Linked DNA regions of Homo sapiens: region 1 is linked to region 2. The links come from fine-mapping of genetic effects on plasma protein levels. A gene starts in region 2. The other region holds a variant in brackets. All regions are shown on one strand. Distances are between the middles of the regions.

Region 1 (2,500 bases), 38 kb before region 2:
CTTCGGGGATGCAAGGAAATCAGTCAGATTTGTACACCTGCTAAATTCAACAGGCAGGAGCTGAGTGTTCAGGGAATGGCAAAGCACCTCCAAATCCCCAGCGTTACTGCTGCCCTTAGTGGTCATGCTAAGGGGACATAGATGAACCAGGCATCCAGGAGACTGGAGACTGACTTTGGCAAGGGAGGCAGGGAGGGAGATGTTCCCTACTGTGCAAGGGAAGGAGATGCTCAAAATACAGGAGGCCACTAGTTGTGCACACACAAACCTATATAAAAAAATGTTCCCACTCCACTAATGTATCCGATGGAACCAATTTACTGCACAGTTAAGAACAGTAATGGCCTCCATTTGCTGATCTCCTACTGCATGCAGCTATTACTGGGGCTAGGCACTACCCACATTCATTAATCCTCACAATCACCATCACTGTCCCCATTTTACAAAGGAGGAAACTGGCTCAGAGAGGCTAGGAAACTTGGCGAGATGACACACCCAGCCAGGGAAAGAAGATTCAAACCCAGGTCTCCTAGGCCACAATCCTGGCTGACTCCATGGTTGTCCAATCTGTAGCTCCTACCCTCCCTCCATGATCCCGAAGTAATTCCAGCATGGCTGGGCAAAAAAGGGTATTTTCCCAGTGGTCCAGGTCATGACCTGAACTGTGTCTTCTTTAATACTATTGATTTCTAGGAATACAACTCTCAGTAAGGACAAGAAAACAACAGGAAATCCTGGAAATATTACTAAAGGACATCGACTTCAGAGCCTCTCCTAGAAAACTTGGGAAACAAAAGAAAATCAAGATCATGGGTAGAAATGTTTATTTGTCTTCTAGTAAAGGAGATTTAATCTATTCCTCAGGAAATGAGAAGAAAGGGCCACAGAGAATTTGCACACTTACTTGAGACAAAAAGAACGATGCCTTTCATGCCTTCACTGACATTTCCTTGACTTGCCTCACAA[T/C]AGATATTTGTCCCTTTATTCCTAATGAAAGGCACACTATTCAAGTTGAATGCAGTTACATGTGGATCAAGTTGTTCTCCATGAATCTGTTTCCCTTCCAAATAACAGGATACATTATTTTGAATGTTCCTAGAAACGTAACAAATGGTAACATTGGTGCCTTCTTCCACCAGCTTATCTTTAGGGAAAACGAACAATATATCCTGTCCAGTAGAATCTTGTACTGCAAGAAAAAAAAATAGCCAAGTTAGAATCGCACTCAAAATTCAAGCCTCTTAAAACAAGTTATCCATTTGCCTTCAGCAGATAACTTTAGCTTTTTCTACCTCCTGGAGAAAATAGCAACCTAAATTTCTCTGCCAAACCTCTACCCTCTGGTGCATGCAAGACAATCCTTTCCACCACTGCTCCTATTGTTACACTGATACCACTGCTGTTGCTCTTACTGCCACAGACAGCACATTACTATTACCACTCTGATAATTGCATGATTGCTATTGCTGGGTTATTGTAACTGCTTTCTATCAAGTCCCAGCCCTGCTGAAGGCCATGTTAAGTGTTTATGTACATTATCTCATGTCGTTCTTAGTACCTTACAACAACAGGTCAGGTAAGACTTAGCCAAAGTTTGCTCAGTTAGAAAGTGGCAAAGCCACATTCAGACTGGCAAGGTCTATGCATCTCCAAAATCCCTCGTAATCTCTTCATTGTACTGGAGATCATATCTCTCCCTACCTTCTCAGAAATGCGAGTCCCTCAAGTGTGAGGGGTCTTTAAAACATTCATTTTTAAAAGTTTTTAAAAAATCCAACCTTCAAGCAATTCTTGTGCCTCAGCCTCCTGAGTAGCTGGGACTACAGGCATGTGCCACCACACCCAGCTGATTTTTTGTATTTTTAGTAGAGCTGGGGCTTCGCCATGTTGTGCAGGCTGGTCTCAAACTCCTGAGCTCAGGCAATCCGCCCACCTCAGCCTCCCAAAGTACTAGAATTACAGATGTGAGCCACCACACCCAACCTCTTACTATCTTTTTAATATCTTTTCTTTCCCTGTGTATGTGTCCTTCTTTCCATAGTAGGATGTAATAGTTAAGCACATGACCTCTGGAGCCAGACTGTCTGGGTTGGAGTTCCAGCTCCAGCACTTAGTGGCGTGGTGACCTTGCATGGCTTCTTTAACCTCTCAGTGCCTCAGTTTCCTTATCTGTGAAGCGAGGATAAGAAGTCCTTTTATAGGACTGACATGAGAACTAAATATGTATAGTACTTTAAAAAGTGACTAGGTCATAGATTTAATTCAATTATTATTATCTCATTAGTATTATTAGTTTAACGTGCGCAAATAATCTCATTTTTCAAATAACACACCACTTTCATTTTTCCATATTCCACCCCCCTTCCCCCCACCCCGCCGTCTAGATTCGGGGGAGCTACAATTTGAGTCCACCATCTGTTGTTTTTTTGGTGTGTGTGTGAGAGACAGAATCTTGCCCTGTGGCCCAGGCTGGAGTACAGTGGTGTAATCTAGGCTCACT
Region 2 (3,019 bases):
AAACCTCTTTGGGCCTCAGTTTCCTCAATAAAATATAATAAAAAACTAGTACCCGCCTCACCCGTGAAGCTTAAATGAGCTAGCATATGTCAAGTGCTTAGAATAGGGGCTGGTTCACAGTAAGTATGAACCATTATTATTTGCAGACAAGGAAACTAAGAGGTGATAAGTAGTTTGACCCATGTTCCAAAGTCAGTTTTAATCTTGGGAATAAAACCTAAAAATTTCTTTCTCCTCCATCAGAATTCCTTCTAGCTCAAACTAAGTATCCTACATTCAATTCTATCTTCTCTGCCTTCATAGACCCTTCCATTTACTTCTCTTGAATATCTTGTTCCCAAAGTGTTTTCAAGGCAGGTCTGTTACCAAGCCACTCCATCAGCAGCACCTAGCACTGTGCCTCCCGCAGCAAGGCAGGCAGGATGGATGGACGGATGCAGGCATGCATGGGTAGGTGGATGAAGGGCAGATGAAGAACTATCGAGAAAGGAATCGCGGTGTCAGGGGTAAAGCCCTGGCCTGCGAGAGCCGGGCTCGGATTTCAGTGCCCTCACAGCTAGCCATATGGCCTTGGACAAGTTACTGAACCCCTCCGTGCCTAGGTTTCCAGAATGTAGAGGGCCACTTCCACTCAAGTGGCTGGAGAAGAAGGTAAGCGCCCCGGACGGACGCTATTGCAGAGTCGCCCGGGGATTCCTCTCTCCACCTGTGCTTGAGCTCCTCCCGCTTCTACGCTAGGGACCAGGTGGGAGAGATACACGGATTCCCAGAAAAATGGCTCTCTCAGGTGGGAGTCAAGGGTTACGAGAGGAGAGGTAGGGGAAGCAATGAACTCCTCCACACGATGTGTTGGGAGAGAGGAAAGAGGGATTCAAGTGGGAATTTTCCACTCAACAAACATTCCACCATCATTTGAGAAAAAGGCGCTGGGATGGTGAATTTCAAACAGTCTGAGAAATGGGCGACTCGGCACTGTGCGGCCTGTAAGGAATGAATCATTTAGTTTTCACCCACCAGGTAGGCAGGCCGGGGGCGAGGACCCTCCGAGCGCCGTCCGAGCGCAGGTGGTAGCCCAGCCAAGCAAACGCTGGGCAGAGGCGGCACCGAGGAGGGGAACGGGCTGCTGCACTCCCGGTCGCGTCCAGCCGGGATGGGCTGCGAAGTTGTCGGATTCTTTCCCGCACAGCACGGGGCTCGCCCGTCGGAAAAGCCACCGAGGGCGGCGCAGCGGCAGGGCGCGAGCAGAGCGGGGACGGGCGGGTCGGGGGTACTCACGCCGCGGGCGAAGGGCTCCACGAGCCGGGCCGAGTCCTCGGCGGCGCGTGGGGCGCGGGTGCGGGCTCCGGGGCGGACGTGCAGAGGCGGCCCGGGCCGGGGCTATGAATCAGCTGCGGGGCAAGCGCGGAGGGGCGGGAGTTACTGGAAAACCGCGGGGGAGGGCAGAGGGGTGAGGTCTTTTGCAATTTCCCGTCTTGCTGCGCACTCTTGGCACTCCTGGGACCCACAGGAATTCCCTCCCTTCAGTCCCGGGGGGAGGCGGCCGCGATCCTGGGGGAGGCGCAGCCTCACAACCCGGACTTTGCGGGCGGGCGGGCACTGGTGAGAAGAGGAAGTGGGAGAGGCCTGGGAAGGAAACTTGGAAACCGAAAACTCGGCGGCCGAGGCTCCGTGCCCCGCGCGCAGCGCTGCTCCTGCCCCGGCCAAGGACGCACGGGCCAGCCGGCGGAACCAGAGGTAAGCCGAGTGACCGATGAGGCCTGGGGCTGTGTATCCCACAGGGGCACTTGTCATCCCAACCCAGAGGCCAAACCCGTGAGATCCCCGTCCGAAAATCTTCAGGCAAGAGAAGTCCTTTAACTAAATTTTGGCCGTGTTTCCATTTGGCGTCCAGAGCAACGAAAACGTGTTTGAACCGAATCAAACGGTCCCCATTTTTCCCCTACTCGCGTTCTATCCAGAAACGCCCTGTCCGACAAAGTTTCTTCGGCTACAACAGTCCCGAAACCTTTATTTCCCAATGCTACGACATGCTACACATGGTTTACTTTTCCCCTTAAAAATGCCATCCAATCTTCAACCTTTTTTTTTTTTTTTTTTTGAGACGGCATCTCACTGTGTCACCCAGGCTGGAGTGCAGTGGCGCGATCTCGGCTCACTGTAAGCTCCGCCTCCCGGGTTCACACCATTCTCCTGCCTCAGCCTCCCTAGTAGCTGGGACTACAGACGACCGCCACCACGCCTGGCTAATTTTTCTATGTTTAGTAGAGACGGGGTTTCACCGTGTTAGCCAGGATGGTCTCGATCTCCTGACCTCGTGATCCGCCCGCCTCAGCCTCCCAAAGTGCTGGGATTACAGGCGTCAGCCACTGCGCCCGGCCAAAAATGCCATCCAATCTTTACCGTGTCTGGGCCTTTGAAAGGTGCATTTCACCTCTCTTAGAGGATAACAGGAGCCTTCCGAGGCAGCCTCGGACCGGGAGCTCCCATAGCCTCGCCTGTCTGGATGCCTGACAAATCAGCAGGCAAGGGGCCTTGCTCCAGATCAGCTGAGCCTAGTTTGGTTTGAGTTTGGGGACCCTGGAAAGTATCACAAAAGCAAGGTTGTAGGAGGGGGGTGGGGGAGGGAACCAAGAGTGATCAACAAGTATCGACCATAAACATATCTTAGAATCCTATATTGAATTGACTGGATGACTCAAAATAATGTCAGAATTATTTTAAAATGTTACTTTTGTGTTTGTTCACATATCTGGCTCCTCCCCAATGTCATCCCAAGGAAAGCTGAGAGTCCTTTTGTTTTTTTATTTTTCCTAAAACAAAGGCCTAAAGGCCCTAATACACTTAATACCTAATGGGGCCACAAAGACCATGATGCATAGTAAATATTTGATGATAATAAAATGTATTTTTGTCTCAATAAATGTATGGTCCTTTGCCACACCTCTCATTACTTGAAGAGTTTTAAAGAGTCCATTAGTTTAGCCATCTGCATGGTTATGGAAACTGCCAAGCCCAAGAG

Alleles and levels. Alleles are on the strand shown, and positions count from the first base shown. The strength of an association depends on the size of the effect and on how common the allele is.
For the plasma level of the protein whose gene starts at base 1,390 in region 2, allele C in region 1 goes with a lower level than allele T (weak association).

Evidence for each region. PIP is the posterior inclusion probability: the model's chance that the variant is causal. The UK Biobank Pharma Proteomics Project read protein levels with antibody pairs (Olink). The fine-mapping took linkage between variants from a reference panel, not from the people measured, so its PIPs are less certain.
Region 1: its variant is fine-mapped to the plasma level of the OSMR protein (UK Biobank, PIP above 0.99). The variant lies in the coding sequence of OSMR. If it changes the protein, the assay may bind it differently, which can mimic a change of level.

Annotation. Positions count from the first base shown.
Region 1 is chr5:38,882,516-38,885,015 of GRCh38, reverse strand. It overlaps OSMR (oncostatin M receptor), which reads right to left. Exons shown (of 18, transcript NM_003999.3): 5 at 905-1,189. Among named protein-coding and RNA genes, the nearest start is that of OSMR, 38 kb to the right of the region's middle. The variant T/C (reference allele first, on the strand shown) is at 967.
Region 2 is chr5:38,844,383-38,847,401 of GRCh38, reverse strand. OSMR (oncostatin M receptor) reads right to left here and starts at 1,390. Exons shown (of 18, transcript NM_003999.3): 1 at 1,015-1,390. OSMR-DT (OSMR divergent transcript) reads left to right here and starts at 1,573. Exons shown (of 4, transcript NR_109951.1): 1 at 1,573-1,734.